Regions from separate parts of the Homo sapiens genome. Here region 1 is linked to region 2. The links come from fine-mapping of genetic effects on gene expression. A gene starts in region 2. The other region holds a variant in brackets. All regions are shown on one strand. Distances are from middle to middle.

Region 1 (5,382 bases), 200 kb after region 2:
GCCAGTGGGGCAAGGGCGGTCTTGCAGATCCAGAATTCAAATTCATTCCTACTGAGGAGGAGAAGACTAGTTTTTAAAAAGTGACAGGGGCCCACAACCTGAGATGTGCCAGTGTTCTAGTCCCCACACCAGGCTTATGGTGAGGCTGCCTTACAACAATTATCACCATCGATCACACCCAGCCTACAGCCAGCCTCACAAATCAACATTTTACACCCTTTCACGATCAGGTTCTGCCAGTGAGGAGTAAATAGTGGAGTAAGATTTTATTAAAGCACAAGGCTCTTGGGTAGAAGTTGTAGGTGTTATTGTGTAACAGTTTTCTAAAAGACATTGACCAGTAACTTTATCCTTAACTATAACTTCAACATTTCTTCATTCTGTAAGAAGCCAAGGCAGCAACTCTAGCCAGCTCCTTAAATCTCTCAGATTCAAATCCCATGGATAACAGGCCAGTCCCCAAGTGTTTAGACCTTCTGAACCAGAAGTGTCCCTCTCCTGAGAATTTTTCTTCATTTGAAAACAAGAGGAGGAGCCATAATTCAAAAGTTTGAGCTCCCCCTGTTGCCACAGTAGTTAAGAACACTAGCTCTTCTAAGCACTTATTATGTTAACTATAACAATCTTTTGAAGTAGGCACTATTATCATCCCCATTTCAGAGATTATGAGACCAGAGACATTGAATAACTTTCCCGGAGTCACTAGCTAGTAAATACAAAAGCAGAATTTTAAACCCTTGGAGACTAATTATGAGCCAGTTAGAATACTGGTTAGAATACCACCATACAGTACACCCACCACTATAGCAGTTGGCACTGGAATTAAAAAAGATTAAGATCCACACACAGATGTTCCTGCGGTGTTAGTTACAATAATAAACTATGCAAATAAAATACTATGTCACCATTAAACAAGGTAGAGAAGGACCCACAACATAAATGGTAGAAGAAAAGGACCTATCATTGCAAATGTGAAAAATAAATGGCTCTACATAGACTTAGAAAAGTAGTAAATATAGAAAATTAAAAGATGTTTGTTGGAGTCATGGGAGGTATGGAGTTTTTGTTTTGTATTTAACATGACTTTAATATTGTCAAATCATTGTTTTACTGATAAACAACTCTTAGTTGATGGGTTGGGAAGTGAGGTGAAGGAGAATTTCAATAAGAAGAAAACTCAAACCCAGCAGGAGCAAAGCATGACTATATATAATCAGGTAACATGATTGTAACATGACGATATTACAAATGTTACTCTCTTCTCAAACTGGGTTGGAGATAGAAACACTACCTAAGGCACAGGGGAGGAGGAGAAACCTAAACAGCCTCGGGAGGAAGAACGTCCACAGAGAAAAGCTGTAGCTCTTCCTAGTGGTTGAATAGGTCAACAGAATTCAGTTAGAAAAGGAGAGGGCTAAAACAGGAAACGATGTTGTGCCCATAAAAAATAGATAATATTTATTGGATCCTTATTGAAATGTTTTAAAAGCAGCAGCTAGTTCCTTGCATTTTGTGAGTTGAGGAGTGTTGAAAGTAGCCAACATTATCAGAAAGAAAGCTAATTACAGTTGCTGAGTGGACTAGTTTTCCACAGTGGATAGGGAAGCTTCTATCAAGGGCAGTTTACATTTTACAGTGTTTTGATTAGGATAAAATACAGCATAACTAGAAAGATGGAAGTTTGGAAGTGACAGTTTCTCCACCTGTTAACTGCTGTCAGCATCTGACAGGGAAAAGCACGGAGAAGACCTTCGTTAGAACCTGCTGAGGAAAAGATCAGTTCTGTTACAAACTCTAGAGAGCTCCAAGTCCTTCCAAGCTGTTTGATAAGTGAGGAGGACTTGCAGATCTCATCATGAGCTACAGTGCTTACTCAGAGCAGGCATTCTAGAAGTGATTTTTTAGTACAAATATCAAAGAAAGACATTGGAGCACAAATCACTGTAGAGTTAAGTTTCAGAAGATCGGTAAGGAAAATACTCGGTGGAGATGGGCAGCAAGTCAGCCTGAGCCTTATCCATGGAGCTCACAGTCTCAGGAAGGATTGTCAGTACCACAAAATCAAGCTTGTGTAAGAGACCATCCCACTCTCAAAGCTCTGTTGAGAGCACACTGGAGAATCCAGTGACATGATTACCTTAGATGGCTCTTAAGAGATGCCGGAAAATATTAGATCAGTGTTTGCATTGCAGTGTTGCCTGGGGCCTTTAACAAATGCTCAAGGTAACACTGCAGTTGTCAAGCTGTTGGAGATGCATGTTCCTGTTGGTTCTGATGAACAGGAAAATAACTCTTTAGTTTTGGGTGATGAGAATGAGAATCCCTTTACAAACCCAAAAGATCACAACTAATTAAGGGGAAATTTAACCTAGAATGCTCTGCATATTTGGCAAAATCAGTTGATTTAAGGGTAGGTTATATCATTTTTATAGTACTTTAACACAGGAATACATCTTAAATCACAAATCATTTGTCAGAATTATTTGTAATCACTGCTTTGCAGAATAAGGTAAAAAGTTGCTAATCTGGAAAAGTAACCATGCATATAGAAGATTGACAGTTACATATTAATTTTTATATTAATTTGGCCAAACTTACATATCACTCAAAGTCATATGACTAGTATTTATGGCACTTCCTTTTCTGCATGTCAGTCTTCCGGTATCTCTCCCTTGTAAAAAACAATTGGAGTTCAGCTGAAAGGTACGCTCTATAGAACAAGCTACTGTCACATAGGATCTCCTGATTCTTCAACCTGTAACCTGTATATTCAGCTCCAAAAGGCAAACTAGGGACTACCGCTGGTTTGGTAGAAGCCACAGGAGATGCTGGCCAAATGAGGATCTCTCATTTTGTAACACGCTCACACACACTTAAAAATAAGTGGGTCATGACATCAGTGTGTTTTGTTTGTTTTTCCTACCCAAAAATCTAACAGATCATCTAACCCTTGCTCAACATCATGGTAAGACCACATATCAATTACAATAAGTCAGGCCCTTTTGCCACCCTAAAATACCTAAAAATTTCTTAAATCTTGATGTAATTTGCTTTCCTAGGGCACATGGACAATCTTTGTAATGAATAAAACATTAAGAACTTATAGGGAGAAGCTGTTTCTAATAATGTCCTTCAAATAAATGGAACAGCA[A/G]TTGTCAAAGAAATACAGCTGTTTCTGCATCAAAAGTATTTTGCTTCTGGTTAGCATTTTTATTGAAAACAAATACCTCTAAAAACAATGCTCTGTTCCATAAATGACTAAATGGGTTTTCATGAGATTAGGTACACTCTTTTCTCCATTAAACTGCAAGCCCCAGGGAGGCAAGGACCCTGTTTTATCTACCACTGTATCCCCAGCTCTTGTGTACTTGGCACATAGTGGACATTAAGTTAAAATTTTGATGGTTAAATAGACCAAAGAGAATTTTAAAGAGGAAAGCTGTTAGAATTTTATATTGCTTCACATGGAATATTGGGGTACTCCCATTTCCCTGAAACAAGCAGCCAGCAACTATCTCAGAAATGTGTCATTTTTACTGGTTATAATTCTTAAAAAGCTTGTTTTCCTAAGATATGAAATGCCTGCCAGTATACAAACTGTTGTAACTACTTCCCTTTTTGCTTTTAGCGGGGAAAAAATAGCTTAATGACAGCATAGAATCATGTAGTAAATATAATTCATTTTTTGAAAGGTTCAGCTATATCCTCTTCCATTTGTTTATTTTAAATGATCTAATTGCAAACATGTCATCACTCCCTTGATGTTTACCTCCTTGTTATGCATTTTTAGCAGGCTTTATTGTCACCTGAGATTTTTTTTTTCTTTGACAGGCTGGAGTCTAGATGAAGGAAAATGTGTTAGAAGCACCTTATCCACAGATGGGGACACTTGGTCATTCAGCACATGTTGAGCTTAGGCAGGCATCAGGGTCTGGCTGCTTACCTGCTTTTATTCACACCTGCCTGTTTAGGTGGCCTGCACTGAACTTCTAGAATGAGTCCAACCTGATCATTTACTGTCTCTGAAAGAAATTATGCTAATAGAGAAAAACGGCCAGTTGGGATCACTTGCTGAGCCAAGTAACTTCTTTAAAAAAAACAAAAAAAAGGTTAAATTTCAGTCTAGGACCTAGTTTTCATAAACCCTCTAGATAAAAGCACCTCGTTTTAGAGAAGACCCACTATGTACCAGCACCACCAAATTTATTATCTTCTCTCTTGCTCTACGAGATTATGTGGAGTCAACATCTTACAACCTCAAATGTCAGTGGATAAACCTCTCTAGATCTGGGCCAAGGCTTGCTGATAGTCTCACCAGACACCTAACATTTTTGTTCCTGACTCGTCATACCCATAGTCCAGTTGTCATTCAGAAGTGAGTTGGCATTCCAACCCATCCCTCCAGAGTGGTTCACACCAGGGAAAGAAGAAAGGAGTGCCAGGCAGCAGCCCAGACAGCTCACCCAGAAGGAGTTACAGTTGGGCTTTTTGTTTTCTTTTGTTTTGTTTTTTGGCAGAGAAGTGTTGAAAGACACTACTGCTTCCACCCTGTCATTAGTGGGTGGGTAATCATGAAATAAAATAAGAGATGAATTAGGATAATAAGAGGCACAGGAGAAAGGAGTAAATTTTCCACAAGTAATATTTTTCTCTTCGTGGTTATTTAACTTTGAAACAGAACTTGAAAGTAGTAATCATGGTTCTACAGTAGACAAAGGACAGAATGTGGGAACCAGACAGGAAGGTGTGATTGCCTTTATTACATTAACTAGAAACACAGAAAAATGCACAACTTTCTGGAATACACTGCTATTTCCATTGCAGAAAAGCAAAGAAAAGGAAAAGTTACTGGTGCCCTATTGTGCTGTCTGTAGACTTTTTTTTTTTTTTAACTCTAATGAGTATATATCTTTGAAAATATTCTCTACATCTTCTGCTTTTCTGTTTTGGCCTCATGGATTCTGTAAGAAGAATTTATATAAATGTATAGGTATATAGTAATATATATTATAAGTAATATAGTAATAATATACAGATCTATATATAGTGGTATATAGATATATAGTAAAGCAATACCCAGTTGTATGATTAAAGGCACAGAAAAACCTTTAAATAGGGTGGACAAGTATTTTTAGCTTTCTCACAACAGCCATCTTCACTGACGTATCCCAAAAATAAACATATGAGACCTATTTCTATTCATTCACTGATGCAACCAAGATGTAATAAGCAACTACAAAGTCCAGACACTTAGGCACTGGGGATACAGTGATAGACAAAACAGACAATGTTACTGCCCCCATGGGGCGTATAGCCTAGAAGGGGAAACAGACACCAAGCAAGTAAACATACTCACCAATTGTTACAAATTGTGAATAAAAA
Region 2 (5,382 bases):
TAGTTATTTTTTCTGTTTTTGAACTTCATACAAATGGAATCATGCTTTATGCATTCTGTTGACTTGCCTTTTTCATTCAACATCAGTTTTGAAATGATCCATGTTGATGCTTTTAACTGCAGCTTATTCATTTCTGTTTCTGCAACGACTCCAATGTGTGCATATACTAAAACCTTTTTAATCCACTCTACAGTTGGTAGACATTTGAGTTATTTTCTGCATATTATGAACATTCCTGTATATTTCTCCTGGTGCACATATAAAATAATTTATTTAAGGTACGTACCTGTTACTGTGTTGTAGGAAACATGCAAATGAAATTCAGGAATGCCAAATTGTTTTCTAAAGTGGTGGTTAGACCAATTTATACTTCCTCCAGGAAGCAGTGTTTTCAGATTTCCCCCCTTCCACATTTTTACCTACTCTTAATATTTTTAGAGTTCTTAATTTTTGCAAATCCGGTGAATATGAAATGGTATAGTAGTATTATTTTAATTTGCATTTCTCTTATTACTAATGAACTTGAGCATCTTTTTATATGTTTTCTGAATATTTGTGCTTCTGTGAAATACACATTCATTCTTTTGTTCATATTCTAACAAGTTCTCTTTTTTTATTGATTATTTATACATTCTGTATACTAACCTTTTGTGTTATATGTATTACAGGTATTTAGTGGCTTTTATCGCTTTTTATAAAATCCTTCAATGAACCAGTGTTCTTAATGTTAACAGTCAAATCTGTCAATCTTACACTGTTGTTCCCCTTATTTAACCAATCTTTCCTATTTCAGGGTCAAAAAGGTATTCTTCTATATTGTCTTCTAACAGCTTTATACTTTTGTTTTTCACATCCAGGTCATGATTCACCTCAATTTTCCACCCTCCTCCCTTGGTATGTGTGAGGCAGGGCTCCCATTTCATTTTTTCCATATGATTGCCAGTTGACCCAGAATCATTTATTGAAAAGTTCATTCTTTCTCCACTGCGCTATAATACCAACTCAGTCATAAATCAAGTGTCTATACAAGTGTAGGTCTGCTTTTGGGCTCTCTAAAACAGGCTGAATTTCCATCATCCAGAAAAAACAGTAAGTAGAACAGTCTAAGTTTGGTAGTTTCCCTTATTACCTCAAACCTAGAACTTCTGCGATTGTTCTCGATTTACTTCTCTTCCTTCTGTCACTCTTCCAAACCATCATTCCTAGTCTTCCTAAAGCACAATTTAGTTCATGTCAGTTCCCTGTTTAAAAACATTAAAAGGCCCCACATTGAAACAATATGGGAAATATTTTAGGCTCCCCTAGTCTGACAGTGACCCATTCCACTTTTCAGGTCTGCATGCACCTCAACAGTGCCTACAATATAGCAGACATAGTAAATATTAGCTTCCTTATAGGCTTTTACATAGGTAAATGAGAGGGACATGATTTGCCTCCTGGCAGAGCCAAAATGTTCTCACCTATACTTATATTTATTTTGTTTTTGTCAAACATGTAAGATCTAGAAATTTGTCTAAACCATAGAACGATTATAAGGGTTTCAGGTCCTTATTTTGTCATTGTTTTAAAGTATCTTACTAAACCTATTTTAAAATGTTATCATATAAAAATAATAACTGTTTAACAAAATAATGCATTCCAGTTGAGTTTAATTTACCTTGTGCTATTAACAAAAGACTCTTCAAAAACCAAAATGACAAAGTAAACAAGGTCTATTTAATAACAAACACAGTTTTTTATTACATTTTATTAGATGTGCCGGAACCCTAATTTGAGGATGCTTGCTTACCTATGCTATCCGTATGTACATTTTGGTATTAGCTCTCTTTTTGAGCTGGAATATAAAAGTCTTCTGCAGGCAGCTTCGGGGACCAATTAATTCCATTAAATTATATCTAGTTATGTAGTGAACTGAACCACTGCTGGTCTGAGGCTGTCTAGAGCTGTGACAATTAGGAGATGGAGAGAGGCAGAAAGAGAGATTGATTTTATATGTCACTGAAGCACACTGCAACAATATGCCAGCGTGACTTTCAAAATGGCCTTAAAATATTCCAAACTCAGGGAGTTTCCTTGCTCCTGAGTGGGAGTTGACAGACTGTCTGGCAGCATTAGAAAGAGGCAGAGAAAAGCTGATGTCTATATTGTGTCCTCTAATAACATTCTGCCTCTTTGCGGCATCCCCCTCTTAGAAGGATCCGTCTATATGTTGTGAGGGGTGTGTGTGTGTGTGTGTGTGTGTGTGTATGTATGTATGTGCTTTGCCTCCCCTTGTGCAAGGGGCATGATTTCACGTCTCACATCTGGGAAAACCAAACCGAAGGACGCTAACCCTCCCAAGGTCACCTAGATTAGTCTTGTGGCCCCGGGTCGGGGGTGGGTGGGAGGAACAGAACCCAGGTGTCCAGACTCCAGCTTTGTTGGGCATTAAATCATTTTCCTTCCCTTGTGAAAAAAAATTACTGGGCGGTGGGAAGTGAACGATTAATCAGATTTCCTCTTTTCCCTTATTTCCCCTCCCCCTTACGAAGATAAAAACTCGGGAAAGCAAAAGAGGTGCCCGCCCTGCAGTTCTTAAGCTGGGTCCCCCCGCATTCCCCCTCCACCCCCACTCCCACTCCCATTTCCCCACCCCCGACACAAAGCGATCTGGACTCACAGGGCTTCCGCCCGTCCAACCGCGAGCCTGGGAGGTGAGGAGTGGTTAAAACTCAGCCCTCACCTCCAGCGGGTCCCGGGCTCGGCGGCGCCCAGGCCCCGCCCCCGCCCGCCCTTCCCCCACGGCCTCGGAACGCCAGCCCCTCTCCTCTCTCCACATCGGGCGCACCCACCCCAGATGCCGCCTGGCACCAAGCGCAGCCGCCGCTGCCGCACTTTCCACTTGTATTGATCACCTCTCAGCCCCGCGCAGCCGGCTCGCCCGAGCGGACCGCGGCCAGCGCGCCAGCCCTTGGCAGCCCCGGAGCAGTCGGGCTCCGGGAGGAAACTCCTTGGGAGCGCCCTGTCCGGGGTGCCCTCTGCGCTCTGCAGTGTCTTTCTTTCTGCCTGGGAGGAGGAGGAGGAGGAGGAAGAGGAGGAGGAGGAGGAGGAGGAGGAGGAAGAGGAGGAGGAGGAGGAGGACGTCTGGTCCCGGCTGGGAGGTGGAGCAGCGGCAGCAGCAGCAGCCGCCGCCGCCGCCGCCGCTGCCGCCGCCGCCGGAAAGGGAGAGGCAGGAGAGCCCGAGACTTGGAAACCCCAAAGTGTCCGCGACCCTGCACGGCAGGCTCCCTTCCAGCTTCATGGGCAAAGTGTGGAAACAGCAGATGTACCCTCAGTACGCCACCTACTATTACCCCCAGTATCTGCAAGCCAAGGTAAAGGGGCGCCGGGGAGAGGTGACGGCCGGAGGAGGGGGCCCGGGGACGCGCGCAGGGTCAGGCCTGGGGAGGGGGGCGCGCGGCGAACCCCCGCCACCGCCGGGCGGAGTTGCTGGAAGGTTGCTAACTATAGCGCTGGCCTGGGCAGAGCCGGGCGGCGCGCGGGGCGGCGGCTTCCCTGGGAGCGGAGTGCGGGGATCGGGTTACAGAAAGCCGCGGGGGGAGAGACTAGACAGGAAAGAGCCACCAGCCCCTTCCTGGCCCGGCCAGCGGGGAGGGTCGTGGGGTCGAGCGGCGCCCCTCGCCGAGCCCTGGCTGGCCGGCGGCCGTCGCCTGGTGTGCGCGTCTGGATCCGCTGGTGGCCCGGCTTTTCGACCCCTTCTCCAAGGGCCTCGCCCTGTAAGCTGTAACTCTTCGCTCCCCTCGCCGTGGCGCGGAGCCTCCCGCCCCCCAGGGACGCCCCTCCACCTCCCGCGCACGCGATGACTGGGGCTGGAGGGGCGGCGGGGCCGGGATATTTTCCTCCCCGCCTCCGGCCCTGAGCGCCCGCCCCTCGCCTCTGATCTTTGTGCGGTGTGGCACTTCACCTGGTTACTGATTTCTACTTTTACGCTGGTGTTTTGGGTAGAAAAGTGGCCAAAGTTCACTCGCGTTCATTGATGTCCCTTCTAATCTCTAGAGGTTTTGCAAAGGAGGGACAATGGGCAGATTTCAGTGCAGAGAAAGAAGTGACTTCGTATTTGGTTAAAAAAGAAACAAAAACAAAACTAGCTTATATGTTTGCCACAGATCGATTTCCAATGTTGCTTTTTAAAAAGTGACCTCGGCACACTCTTGGGTAACAACAGTTGATGACATGTAGCCATACAAATTGCGCCTGGCTTTCTAGGGACCCTGGGTACTTTGTTAGTGGGCCTATCTTATTTTTACAATAAGAATTTGATGCCTCCCGAACTCATTTAAAAAAATTATTTGGGCCATGAAGACTGGAAATTTCACTGCTTTGGAAGCAGCCGCCAGAATTTGGGAGGGTGGAAGTTGGACGCAGCAGCCTTCTTCAGCCATTAACATCTATCACAACTCTGGGTGCCCTTCTAGATCACAAAAGAATCAGGTATGGATGCAGTGTCCGAACTTTCTTTGGGAGGTTGTAATCATGCTCTGCTTGCTGGTAGTTGGGCATTTCCGGCCTGGTACAAAGAATCTCTGATTCAGCCTTTTCTTTCTTAGAATGTGTGTGGTCCACGTTTTCATGTACTTACGACATAGCCCTGTATTTGTCTACGTAAAAAGGACACTTGTCAGTTTCGAGACCAGAAATGTCCTAGCAATCCCGGGCCTCATTTTCACTTCCCCCAATTCCCACTTTACTTTGGGTCACCAGAAAGCAGCAAGATGGTAGCAGCAAGGATACCCCTTATTCATCTCTGTGTAGTTCTCACAGTATTTGTTTTAGGAACTTGCAGGAGATGCTAGTTTTCTGTGAGCTACATGGTAGCTGTTCAAAGAAATTTTGTGGCATAATCAATGCACTACCTTTTAGATATCTTATATATTTAATGCACTTGTTTAAATTATGCAGCATTGGGTGCCTAAAGGACAGCTTATTCAACACTTAACAATATGAATAATAAATACACCCACTCAGGTGAGGAAGAAAAAAAGCCATGTTTCTACAGGCACATTTACCTTAGTAATTTTTATATACCATTAGTAAGTTAGAAACCAAGTCCATACCATTTAATGTAGCTAATGCAATGCCATTTGGCTTTTTTGCCCTGTAAATAATTGAAGAGAGAGACAAACGGCAAGAGCCTGCTCTAGTAATTAGGGTCGGATCCCAGAAAGCTTTACGGCCCATTTTCTGAAAGTGTGCTTCCTGCATAAAGCATTTAATATTGATTTGTGTTGCGGTAAATGACATTCTCAAAACATTTTGCTAATTCTACAATTAAATCTGAAATCCTATTATTCGGAATTCCTTTGTTTCTGGAGAAAGGTATACATACTCACTTGACCTATATAA

Direction of the effects. Alleles are on the strand shown, and positions count from the first base shown. SD is a standard deviation of normalised expression in the study named.
For the expression in NK cells of the gene that starts at base 2,835 in region 2, allele G in region 1 goes with a higher level than allele A (small effect, 0.32 SD a copy in Gilchrist 2021).

Evidence for each region. PIP is the estimated chance that this variant, and not a neighbour inherited with it, causes the effect. A credible set is the group of variants that fine-mapping cannot tell apart.
Region 1: its variant is the best candidate, but not a certain one, in a credible set for the expression of RBMS1 in NK cells (Gilchrist 2021, PIP 0.81).

What each region holds. Positions count from the first base shown.
Region 1 is chr2:160,287,553-160,292,934 of GRCh38, reverse strand. The region is part of intron 6 of RBMS1 (RNA binding motif single stranded interacting protein 1); the gene reads left to right. Among named protein-coding and RNA genes, the nearest start is that of LINC02478, 18 kb to the right of the region's middle. The variant A/G (reference allele first, on the strand shown) is at 3,152.
Region 2 is chr2:160,491,260-160,496,641 of GRCh38, reverse strand. It overlaps RBMS1 (RNA binding motif single stranded interacting protein 1), which reads left to right and starts at 2,835. Exons shown (of 14, transcript NM_016836.4): 1 at 2,835-3,353. The coding sequence starts at 3,279. RefSeq lists a silencer at 2,408-2,587 and an enhancer at 2,774-3,294.